Regions from separate parts of the Homo sapiens genome. Here all the other regions are linked to region 1. Evidence: fine-mapped expression QTL. A gene starts in region 1. Each other region holds a variant in brackets. All regions are shown on one strand. Distances are from middle to middle. Region 1 holds the start of SLC41A1 (solute carrier family 41 member 1). Region 2 has its middle 6.0 kb from the start of RAB29. Region 3 overlaps PM20D1 (peptidase M20 domain containing 1).

Region 1 (4,235 bases):
GAAGCCGCAAGCTGGGAAGAAACAAGAAATTCCTCACCAGACAGCCACTAGGGGTGCAGATGCCTGACTCCAACCCACCAGCTCTGTGCTTGAAGAAAAAGTATCTGTCCTCTTATCTTCTTTGGTTCTCAGTGGCAGGCTCCTCAGAGCAGGGGGCATCCAGAGTAGAAGAGCTCAACCAAATTCTGGGGTGCCCTCTGAAGTGGCCCCTCTTCCGTAAAAAGCAGCTTGAGTTCAAATCTTTCAGAACACAGTGCCAGCCTGGGGCTGCGGCTCCTTCCCGCTCCTTTGGCTGGGCTCTGTCAGCTTCCCACAGCTCCTCAGGCTCTGCTGGTCCCAGCGCAGCGTCTGCCGTCTTTCCCTTCTCTTCCAGAAACTTCCTCCCTTCCTGGGAAGAGCTAATACCTCTTCAAATCCCTGGTCCTTAAAGTCACGAGAATCAGTGTGGAACACCTTATGTGGGAAGGAGAAAGAAAAGAAAAAGAACATTACACTATAGCAAAGGACAGCTTGTACTGGGAGAATTTCCCCCCAAGGAAGTTAGGAGTTCATCATATAGCTATAGAGTTTGCTATTTGCCTCCCTTTTTCCGCAAAAATTACTCAGTCCTGCACTGCTCCATCTGGAGGCTCAGCAGGAGCTATCCCCGCCATCCTCCCCACCAGCAACCCTCCTGAGGGATCACCACCGTGGTCACCAGCAATGAGATGTGACCAGCCTGGGATTGGGAAGATGCTGTGCAGAAGCCCTCTGCACTGTTTCCTCAGCAACTGGGGGTGGGTAGGTGTGTCCTCAGCAAGACCCCTTCTTGAATGCCCATTAAGAACCCTGCATTATTTAAGTGGGGTTCAGTTACAAATTCAGTCACAAACTCCCTGCCACACAGCCACCCCTGTATAAAGTGACTGCTTATCATCACAAGACAGCAACAGAAAGACAGCCACACAGGGCAAAGAAATAGGGAGAAACTGATTGCTGAGTGAAGTCCCCCAGACCCCAGATCGTTCTAGCTTCTGAGAAAACAAAACAAAGCTAGGAGGACTCCCTGGGCAGTGGGGCAAGCCTGCCAGACCAAGGCCAAGAGCCAGAGGCCTACCCACTCCTGCCCTTGAGAGTCAACAGTGTTACAAAGAGCTCAGACAGCTGACTCGGATCCAGGCCTCTGTCTCTCCCCGTCTCCCCCTGCTCTTGGCCCTGTGAGCTTGTCAGATAGGACAAGGGAGTTATCTCAGTTAGAAGGGACAGAGCATAAAACGATTGCTTATTACCCACGCATTTCAGTTAATTAGGCTCCTCCTGTTCCCCAGGGTTACTGAGAGTTGGATATAGTGGAATTCTTAGAAACAAAAACAAAAAAACAAAAGTAGCAATAAAAAAAACCCAAAACAAAAACCAAAGCACCGTAAGCCAATATGCACTTGCTCCAAATGCATCTCTTTAGCTGTAATGGCTCCACTTCTCTGCCTAAAGGAATCCCCAGGCTTCCTAATTCCTGATGGACTCCCATCCTATTCCATTTCACCAGAAGAGCTCTTATTCGTAAAAAATAAATTTAAAGAGAGTTCCACCAGGTAAGAGGAACAGGTCCTTAAGTATTCCAAACACACACAATTAGTCAAGTTCAGTTTAGGAAAGGAGGTATCAAACCCCAGGAACTGGCCCAGGAGAACTGTTTCCTCTATCAATTCAGTCACCCACCAGGACTCCCTTTTCCAATCTCCTTAAACACAGTACTGTGGTTCTTTCAAACTCCCTCACCAGAGATCCAGGAGGAAACCTCTGAGTCCAGTGCCCCTATGCCAGAAAAGTTTCTGAGTCCGCTAAAAGCTGACACCCCCGCCTCCCTCCTGTGTTCCTGGCAGGCCACTGAACCTGAGAGGGGGCTCCCAGGAGGGGAAGCCAGTCCTCCCTCACCACTCCCCCTGTAAAGAGACTTCAGACAGGCCTAAGGCCCTGGGACGAAAGAAGCAAAAGTGAACCAGGACGCCCTATCCCCTCCTCCCAGGCGGGGACAAAAAAGACCCATTTTAGTATCCCCAACCCCGAGGAGGGAGAGAAAGTAACTGGGTGGCCTCCTCAGTCTCTCCACCACTCAGATTCAGCAAATGCGCTGCGCGCCAGGACTGCCGCCCTCCACCACCCCCTCCCCGCCCCAGGACCCCACAGGACTGACCTGCCCCTCGCCTGGGAGGAAGGGGGGCGCCTGGCAAGTGGCAGCGTGGCCCGTGGTCTCGGGGGGTGCAGGGCACCCCCTCTTCTCATCACTCCTCCTCGACAGTCCTCCTTGGCCCCCGGCGTGCCCCCCCACACCCCCAGCCAAGGCGAGCGTCCAGCCGCGACACCCGGCTCGCTACATTTCGCTTCTGCGTTACAGCGAGGCCGCCGCTCCGCTTCCACGCGGGGGAGGTGGCCGGGGAGGGCAGGATATATCGCTTCGGGCCCGGCGGGGGGGCACCCGGACGGGGGACCGGGGAGCCGAGCTCACGCGCCCCCAATCGCTTCTTGCCCGCGGACTCGGGCCCAACTGGTTGGCTGCCGGTGGCAAACGTGATCTGGGGCAGACTGGGTGGCACCCCCCCCGCTCCATCAAAAATAGATTCTCGGATGGACAACAGCAGCAGCCAATCAGGGACTGGGGAGGGGGCGGGATCAACCTCGGCCCGGCCCCCTTCCTTCGCTTCGTGCCCAGGAGGCGGGGCGCCGGGGAAACGCAGTAGGAGGAGTGACGGGAACCGGGAGCCGGCTCCATGCGCCTGGAGCGCGCGGGTCCCAGCGCCCATCGGCCCGGGGTCCGAGGGGCCCGCTGCCCGGGCTCGCTGCGTGGTGCTACCGCCCCCGGGCCCGCTGCGCCGCGTCGGAGCCCCAGCAGACTTTGAGAGGCGTGTGCGACAGTGCGCGTCCTCTCCTGCCTCTGGATGTTTCCTTGGAGCCTCTGGCCTTCGGGAAGACCGGTAAACGTCCCTGTGGAGCCAGCCAGCCAGCCACCTCTGACCCCCGGGCTCAAGCAGCCAGCCGCGTGCTCCCTCCTCCCACTTGGTACCCGGACAGAACAGTCCCTACCTTGCTCTTCTCCCGCCGGCTCGTCACTTTAGGCTCCCTCCAGATTCCGCGTTCCTTGAGCAAATGGCTCACCCCTGACGAATCCGGCCTTAAAAAAGTCCCGGCCTTGAAAGGGGTGGAGACTGGCGGGCGGGAGCGAAAGGAGGTCAGACCCATGGCTGGGGTCGCACACGCATCACCTGAGGTCGGAGAGGAGGGGAGCCTCACTTCCTCTGACCCACTGAGCCTGGTGGCAGCGTGCGGAGAGATGTCACCATCCCGGACTAAATGAAATCCAACTTTCCCTGACGCACCTTGTGGGATCAAAGAGGGGTGTTCCCATGCTCACCTTTCGCCACTTCCTCCCTGGGGTATCTCCACCTCTCCAACACAAGCTCAATGCCAGTTCTCTTTGGGATGTTTTTGTGCAGGGGGTGTGACCTCCCTCATAAAGGAACCCCCACTCCCAAGTTTTCCCCTCTTGTCAGTGGAACCTGTGACCAACGGTTCCTTCCTGTCCTTTTCCTCCCTGAAAGTAGCCCGGGGGCATTCGAACATGGCTCTAGACCCCTGAATAGGGTTTGGAGCGGAGATGTGCCTGGGGAGAAGAGATCGCAGTGCTGTGTATGAAGCTTTGGGCACGTGCTCACAAGAGCACACACAGCAACCTGAGCAGGTCATTCCTTTTGATAAGGATGACAAATACACATACCAAACCCTGTTCCCCTCACCCACCCCAAACCAGTACCCCCAGGATGATTCCAGATCAGCTCTGGAGCATTTGCATCAAGGGCCTGCAGACTCACAGGACCTACTAGAGCAAAATATCAGTGTCTCAGACCCCAGTTTTGGCCTCAAATACTGGGTTTTTCTGCCAGGAGAAGTAGCTGCTAGTCTAGGAAATGCTGGGACTTGTCCAGAAAGATGAGGTTTGTGAATACGGGGTGTGGGGTTGGGTGGGGAATTAAGGCTGATGTATCTGGAGGAACTTTGGTTGGGCTGGAGGCAACTTCTGCCCTGTTCTATTCAACAGTTCCCTCCCCTCCACTACCCCATTTAATCTGGCCACAGCTCAGCTACCTGTGTATAAAATCTTGATCTCTCTCCTATTTCCTTTCTACCTTCCGTGTTTTTACTTACTCGAAAACTGTTCCCCTCTCCTGTGTGTATTTTTTTAATTGAAATATACCAGGCAT
Region 2 (4,235 bases), 31 kb before region 1:
CGAAGGTTCTAAAATTTTAGTGTGCATAAGCATCACCTACCTGGGGTACTTGTTAAATACCCACATTTTGATTCTGTAGGGCTAGGGGGTGACCCAGGTTAATCTGCATTTTTGACAAGTACTCATGTGATTGCTACACCACATTCCACTTTGAGAAATAGTACTTTTGAGAAATGGTGCTTCAAGGCCTGACTTAAATATCTACTTATTTATAAACATTTCCCTTATTATTGCAGCCTTTATTGGTCACCTGTAGCATTTATTTTTTTATTTTAATTTTTTAATTTTTTTTTTTTTTTTGAGACAGAGTCTCGCTCTGTCACCCAGGCTGGAGTGCAGTGGTGCGATCTGGGCTCACTGCAAGCTCCGCCTCCCGGGTTCACGCCATTCTCCTGCCTCAGCCTCCCGAGTAGCTGGGACTACAGGCGCCCGCCACCACGCCCGGCTAATTTTTTTTTTTTGTATTTTTTAGTAGAGACAGGGTTTCACTGTGTTAGCCAGGATGGTCTTGATCTCCTGACCTTGTGATCCACCCGCCTCGGCCTCCCAAAGTGCTGGGATTACAGGCGTGAGCCACCACGCCCGGCCTATCCTTTTTTTTGTTTTTGAGAGGGAGTCGCTCTCTGGTCACCCAGGCTGGAGTGCAATGGTGCTATCTTGGTTCACTGCAACCTCCGCCTCCCGGGTTCAAGTGATTCTCCTGCCTCAACCTCCCAAGTAGCTGAGATTACAGGCACGTGCCACTATGCCTTGCTAAGTTCTGTATTTTTAGTAGAGACAAGGTTTCACCGTATTGGCCAGGCTGGTCTCGAACTCCTGATCTTGTCATCTGCCTGCCTTGGCCTCCCAAAGTGCTGGGATTATAAGTGTGAGCCACTGTACCTGGCCTGTAGCATTTATATTCTATTTGCACTTTGGTCACTTAACTATGTGACCAATTTGTAACTATTTAACTTATATAAGCAACCAGCGTGTCTCGAAGAAAACAGGAAGAAGTAAATTTTTCCTTCAAAATTTTGACTTTGCTCCTGATCATCTGTGAAAGGAACTACTCTTAGCTTCCAAAATCGGAAAGGTCGGGAGTTAAGATTTAAGAGGGAAGATTAGCAAATTTCTGGTACTCCCTGAAAGACACAGTTCTCAAAGTAGTAATCATTTCTTTGATGGGGATGAGAAGTGTTTTTCTTTCTCTCTTCTCTTTTTTTTTCTTTTTTCTTTTCGTTTCTTTTCTCTTTTCTTTTCCTTCTTTTCTTTCTTTCTTCTCTTTCTTTCTCTCTCTCTCTCTCTTTCTTTTTCTTTCTTTCTTTCTCTCTTTCTCTCTTTCTTTTTTTGAGACACAGTCTCGCTTTGCTGCCCAGGCTGGAGTGCAGTGGCACAATCTCGGCTCACTGCAACCTCCATCTCCTGGGTTTAAGCGATTCTCCTGCCTCAGCCTCCCGAGTAGCTTGGATTACAGGCAGCTGCCACCACGCCCAGCTAATTTTTTTGTACTTTTAGTAGAGATGGGGTTTCACTATGTGGGCCAGGCTGGTCTTGAACTCCTGACCTCAAGTGATCCCCCTGCCTCAGCCTCCCAAAGTGCTGGGATTACAGGAATGAGCCACTGCGCCTGGCTGAAAGGTGTATTTCTTCAACACTAAATTGCATTTCTGATCTCAGTTTTTAAGAGAGACGGATATAAATAAGAGAAAGAGAACACACATTCAAGGTGCCAAACAATTGATTTGCACATATAGTGGCCCTTGAACCACTCAGGGGTTAGGAATGCCTACCTACCCTCCAGTCGAAAATTTGTGTGTCACTTTTGACTCCCCGAGAATTAACTACTAATAGCCTACTGTTGATTGGGAGTCTTACCAATAACATAAACAGCCAATTAACACATATTTTGTGTGTTATATGTATCATATACTATATTCTTACAATAAAGTAAGTTAGAGAAAATAAAATGTATTAAGAAAATCATGAGGAAGAGAAAATATATTTACTATTCATTAAGTGGAAGTGGTTCATCATAAAGGTCTTCATTCTTGGTGTTTTCATGTTGAATAGACCAAGGAGGAGGGGAAGAAAGGGGAGGGTTTGGTCTTGCTGTCTCAGGGGTGGCAGAAGAGGAAGAAAAGCCCTGTGTAAGCGCATCTGTGCAGTTCCAACCCGTGTTGTTCAAGGGTCAACTGGTATATGTTTGGAAATATAGTTTGGAAGCTGGGGAAAGGGGTCAGCCTTGCTCTGTAACTACCACACTTCCTGTATGTGTCTGCCTTTCTCTTTTCTACTTTTTACTTTCCACTTTTTATTTTGAAAAATTTCAAACCCATAGAAAAGTTAACAGTACAATGCATACTAATATGTCCTTCATCGGGATTTACCAATTACTAACATTTTGCCATATCTGCTTTGTCTCTTTGTGTGTGTGTTGAACTGTTTGAAAGTAAGTAGCAGACACTTCAAGCTTAAATACTTCAACATGCAGCTCCTAATAATAAAATTATCCTACAAAGCCAAAATACCATTAT[C/CT]TTTTTTTTTTTTTTTTTTTAAGACAGAGTCTCATTCTGACATCCAGGCTGGAGTGCAGTGGCACCATCTTGGCTCACTGCAACCTCTGCCTTCTGAGTTTAAGTAATTCTTCTGCCTCAGTCTCCCAAGCAGCTGGGACTACAGGTGCACGCTACCACACCGAGCTATTTTTAATAGAGATGGGGTTTGCCATGTTGGCCAGGCTGGTCTCGAATTCCTGGCCTCAAGTGATTTGCCTGCCTCGGCCTCCCAAAGTGCTGGGATTACAGGAGTGAGCCACCTCGCCCAGCCCAAAATACCATTGTCACATCTATGAAAATTAACCTTAATCCAATAATATCATCTAACAAACAGTTTACATTTACATCTCTCTATAGCTCCCCAATATTTTTTTCTCATTTTCTCCTCACCTGTCATCCAGAATACAATGAAGTTTCATGCATGGAATTTGGTTATTCTATTTCTTTAGTCTCTTTCAATCTTAGGAGCATGCTGTGTCCAATACAGGAGCCAGTAGCCATGTGTGGTTATTTACATTTAAATTATATAAAATCAGCTGGGCTTGGTGGCTCCTGCCTGCAATCTCAGCTACTCAGGGAGGCTGAGGCAGGAGGATGGCTTGAGGTCAGGAGTTCGAGACCAGCCTGGGCAACATAGCGAGATCCCATCTCTAAACAAATTTTTTAAAGTAATTAATTAAAATAAATAAATGTAAAGACCAGCTCATCTGTTGCCTAGCCACACTTCAAGTGCTTAGCAGCCATATTTGGCTAGCAGTTACTATATTGAACAGCACAGACATAAACTAGTTTCATCATCACAGAAAGGTCTGTTGGACAGTACTGTCTATAACAATCCCTTGCCCTTTTTTTTTTGACTTTCTTTTTAGAGTCCATGCCAGTTGTCTTACAGGAAGTCGCATATCCTGGATTGTCTGTTTATTGCCTCAAGATTTGATTTAAGAAACATTTTGGGCAAGAGCCCCACACAGAGGATGTGGTGTGCATCTTAGTATGTTGCTGATGTCAGGTAGCTATTAGTGATGCCTACACTATGAATTCAATGAACACTTGTTGAAGAAATGATCTGGTGCCAGGCAATCTCCTAAGGACTTGGGAGCTTGACTTCAAATAGGAGAGAGACAGCTTATATAATCTCCAGAGCCTCCAACATTGTCCTAGGAGCAGAGTGGAAAAATGCTTTGTAACATGAAGGGAAGACTGAAGTGACATAGCAAATGGCCCAGCAGCAGCACAGAGGAGAGGGACAGACCCAGAGAAGGGTGAGGTCAAGAGGCTACAGCTGTTCCTCAGCCCCAACCCCCAGACTCACTTCGATGATCATAACTTTTTGGCTGTTGCTTTGGGGAGGGGCAGGCAGCTTGGTGAAATGCCTGTGACCCAGCTAAGCATTCAGCTGGAAGACTTCGCAGCAAGGTGCCCAAGGAAACCCTCAGGACAGAGAGGCTGGCAAGTTCAAAGGGCAGCCTGCCAGTCATTCCTCTGCTGGCCCGTGCCAAGGGTCTAGGCCAGATTTGGGCCTGGGAGTATCTAGGGAAAACATCAAACTATAGTTTTCACTGCCTTGGTTGTCACATTTGCCTCCTTCTGTGGCTACCCTCCTTCCACCCCAAATAAAGGCCAGGGAAAGAAGACAGGAAAAAAGTGAAAACTAAAGAGAAAATTTTGCTTCAAAGAACTGGTTGTGTGGTTCCCAAC
Region 3 (4,235 bases), 28 kb after region 1:
TCGTGGTTTGCAATTATACATTCATTTTTAAACTGATGTTTGTAGCAGACCATTGCAAGGCTCTGGCCTCAACTCTTTTCTCTCCTAGCTCTCTGCACCTTCTTCCCATGGGCTTTTATTGAATCTAGAGGTTCCCATGATGTTAATGACACTCCAGCCTATATCTCTAGTTCATATCTCTCTCCAGACCTGAGGTATTTATAATTGCCTATTTCATATGTTATAAGCTTCTCAAACTTCCAAATTATGATATTCTTGAACTTGTTTTAATTTCTGAATTCCCAATCTTAGTCAAAGGCATTAACTACTTGGTCAACTACCCAGGTTAAAAACCTTGGAGCCATCCTGCTTTTCTCTCGCTCCATACCCATATACATACCACATCCTATTGAACCCACCTCTCTCCCACCTCTGGTGGTTGCTCTCTTCTCCACCCCACGAGCATGGCCTCAGTCCAGACCTTCACATGCACTACCTAAGATGCTGAAATAGCTCTCTGTCTCCTTCTCTTCCAGCACTCCCTCTGCAATGCTGCTAGCATGACCTCTCTAAAAGCAAATCTGAGTATTTGGTTGAAGACCTCTAAAAGTTCTCTCCTGCCACAGATTTCACAGATTAGGGCCCAAACTCCTCAGCATAGCATACAAGGCCTAGATCCCTAAACTACAACTCCATTTCCTATCAGTTTTCATCTCCTATTACTTGTCCCCAGTTTATTCTATTCGTTAAGCCACAATGAATGTCTTACTTCTAGCCAAGTTCTGTTTTTCCTCTAAGGCCCAGTTCAACATTTTAGTAGTCAGAAAAGACTTTTTTGACCCTAAGAAGTAGCATGAATTTCTTTCTTTGCAGTGGTCCTATGGCAATTTGTTCACCTCTAATTTTTATAATCATAGTTTAGGGTTGTGGCTAAAAGCACAAACTCTGGAACTAGACTGCTAGATATATAATCTTGGGTATGCTGTTTGATTGCTCTGGTACTCTGTACCTCAATTTTCACCAGTTAAATGCAGATTTAGGGTGGGTAGTTGTGAGGATTAAAATGTATGGGTATACCTTAGAAAGGTGCCAAATATGGCTGGGTGTGGTGGCTCATGTCTGTAATCCCAACCCTTTGGAAGGCCGAGGCGGGTGGCTCACAAGGTCAGGAGATCAAGACCACTCTGGCTAACACGGTGAAACACCGTCTCTACTAAAAATACAAAATACAAAAAATTACAAAAATACAAAGTACAAAAAATACAAAAAATACAAAATACTGAAAATACTAAAAATTAGCCGGGCATAGTGGCACGTGCCTATAGTCCCAGCTACTTGGGAATCTGAGGCAGGAGAATCGCTTGAACCCGGGAGGCGGAGGTTGTAGTGAGCCAAGATCGTGCCACTGCACTCCAGCCTGGGCGACAGAGCAAGACTCTGACTCAAAAAAAAAAAAAAAAAAAAAAAAAAAAGAAAGGAAGAAAGGTGCCAAATACACAGCAAGCCTACTACACTACTACATATATATAATGTTATATATAATGTTTGTTACTATAGGTATTGCTATCATTTATTCATACTCATCTTCCATTTCAGACCCCATGTTTACCCAAACCCAGGATCTCCAATCCTAATGAAGTATCCGGTGCATAGGTTGTCTTTGAAAAATGTTGGTTGAATAAATGGGACACTGGACCAGCCCTAGGACTGTAGTTAAACCCGGGCCCTGAGGGCCACATCTCCCTGATGCTGCATGAGTTGTTGTCTGGAACATATGGTACATACCTCTTGGACTGTCTGTCCAGGGTGAATCCGGAAGTTGACTGTGGCCTGGGCCACTGGGGGGATGACATTGAACTAGAGAGAGAAGCACAAAACCCTGGCTTGAGTCAACCTCAAATCTTCTACATCTGCCTGCCCAGGAAATGCTAATTTCCTCAGCTCAGGCAGAGTTGGCTGATTTGACTTAAGGACCCAAGGCTTAGCTTTTCTAGTCTGCCTCTTGTCTTCTCTGAACTAAGTGACATGTTATATTCAGAGCTGAAGG[G/C]GTGTCTCTGCTTTAAGCCAGACCTTCCTGCTTCTTGGTGCTGCAGGGGGTCACAGAGATGTTCAGAGCAAGGCTGCTTTCTCTGATCACCCAGATATCTCTGTTTTGGCCCCATGCTGTGCTATTAGAAGCCTTCTGTGTGCACTTTCTTTCCCAGCACACCCAGGACATTTCTGCAGCTGTTAACATTAGTGCTTACTCACGATGGGGCAGCCAGAGCCTCTGTTGACCCCCATCATGGCATAGCACGGGGCTCACATCAGGTTTGATCCTTGAGGGGGATGAGAAGAACACATACTCCTCACATATTCCTGGTCAGGCAGGAACAAAAGAGTGACAGAAAAGTAACCTTCAGAGTAAGAAAAGGACCCTAGTGCTGGCCAGTGCTCTGCCTGTTCTCACCTATTCCCAGCCAGTGACTGAGCCAAGACAGAGGGATCTGGCTTGTTCTCTAGGGCTGTTAGTATGTTTCTGAGACCCTAAGACCTAACATAACCTTTGGGAGCTGGTTCCCTCTTATCCTTGAGGCTGCTGAGCAATTGTTCTAACCAATCAGATAAGCCAGTCAGGCAGTAATTGCCTCCCCATTCCCGACCTTCTAGCAGGGATTGGTGGTTTCCCAGGTCCAGTTGTAAAATCTGACTTTTTTGCCTGACCAGGAGGAATCCAGGACTAACTGGAGAAAAGAGTTAGGCTATGGAGGGATTGTTCCTTGGAGGCCGGGAGACTCCCCAAGTGCATATCTTTCTTTGAACTCGTATGGTGCAAAAAAGCACTAAGTGGTCAGGGACAGAGCTGGGCTGTTGCAAATTAGCTGTTGCAACCTCTTTGTGCCTCTGTTTTCTCAACTGGGTATTGGGGCAATACTCATAGGACTCTTAGAAGGCTCAGATGGAGTAACAAAGTATCCTGGGGAGATGAAAACACCATTCAAATGTCAGGACACAGTGCTATTATTCTGATGAACACTACAGCTGACACACTGGACGGTCCAGTGAGTTATGCCAGGAATTAATTCAGAGGCATCATTCACTTATATACCCGATTACTAGAGTGCTTCAAGGTCACATTGTACTCTAGGTGAATGGTGCCCCCTGAAGTTGTGCTGGTGGTACTGGCAGTTACAAGAATGGTCTAACTCCCTTCAAGATTTCAGAAAGGCCTATGTCTTTGCGTGGCTAGGCTTGGATCCAGCTGACACACACAGAAGGAAGGAAGAGCCAGTAGATAGATTCAAGGAAGGGAGGAGTGGAGGGCGGTAGGGAAAAGCTATATGGGGAGGAACCAGGGATGTTACCTTGACCCCTGCTTTGAATATGGTGAGTGCCGTGGTGGTCCTGATTATTGCATTGGTTAAGGGATTTCTCTCCATAAACCTAAAACAAAAGGACCAAGGTCAGATGTTAGAAAGAACCAATGGGGTGAAGGAAAGGGCGGAAACATTACCCACTTTCCTGAACCTTGGGGATCTTTAAGACTGAGAGAGACGTCTTAGAGATGTCTTAAATATACACACTTAGAGATGCAGTATCTGGTGGCTGAGGGATGATTAGTCAGGCCCAGTTAAGCCAAGGAGAGGGGCCTGGGGGGTGGGTAGGTTTGAGGTGAGGGATGTGAAAAAAGGAAAGATAATACTTTACCTGCTTATAAGTGGTTCAAATAGCCATGGGTTGCTCAGGATTATATTGACAGGGAAGGGAAACTGGGAAAGAACAAGGTCAGCACCACAGGGTCACCTCTAGTTTAGCCTGGGTCTCTGAGACCTGAGTCTCTCTCTACTTTAGAGCTGCCTCAGGGGCCCTTAGCAGTCAGGAGTGCTGCTAAATTCAGTTAGCTCAATCCCTGCTAGAGGATCAGGAATAGGGAGGCAATTACTGTCTGGCTGGGCTTATCTGGTTGGTTAGAACAATTGCTTAGCAACCTCAAGGATAAGTGGGAACCAGCTCCCAAAGGGTAGATTAGGTCTTAGGGTCTCAGAAACACACTAACAGCCGTAGAGAACAAGCCAGATCCCTGTGTCTTGGCTCAGCCACTGGCTGGGAATAGGTGAGAATAGGCAGAGTGCTGGACAGTACTAGGGTCCTTTTCTTACTCTAAAGGTTACTTTTCTGTCCGTCTTTTGTTCCTAGCTGATTAGGAGTATGTGATACTTCTTCCCATACCTCATTTGCCAGTTGCTGCAATACAGTCACCACTGTCCCGCTTCCAA

Evidence for each region. PIP is the estimated chance that this variant, and not a neighbour inherited with it, causes the effect. A credible set is the group of variants that fine-mapping cannot tell apart.
Region 2: its variant is the best candidate, but not a certain one, in a credible set for the expression of SLC41A1 in skeletal muscle (FUSION, PIP 0.55).
Region 3: its variant is the best candidate, but not a certain one, in a credible set for the expression of SLC41A1 in sun-exposed skin (GTEx, PIP 0.79).

Annotation. Positions count from the first base shown.
Region 1 is chr1:205,810,635-205,814,869 of GRCh38, forward strand. SLC41A1 (solute carrier family 41 member 1) reads right to left here and starts at 2,564. Exons shown (of 11, transcript NM_173854.6): 1 at 2,174-2,564; 2 at 1-453. RefSeq lists silencers at 2,295-2,554, 2,695-2,924 and an enhancer at 2,358-2,858.
Region 2 is chr1:205,779,327-205,783,561 of GRCh38, forward strand. No RefSeq gene overlaps it. Among named protein-coding and RNA genes, the nearest start is that of RAB29, 6.0 kb to the left of the region's middle. The variant C/CT (reference allele first, on the strand shown) is at 2,517.
Region 3 is chr1:205,838,488-205,842,722 of GRCh38, forward strand. It overlaps PM20D1 (peptidase M20 domain containing 1), which reads right to left. Exons shown (of 13, transcript NM_152491.5): 7 at 4,189-4,235; 8 at 3,667-3,728; 9 at 3,324-3,402; 10 at 1,765-1,836. Among named protein-coding and RNA genes, the nearest start is that of PM20D1, 9.5 kb to the right of the region's middle. The variant G/C (reference allele first, on the strand shown) is at 2,027.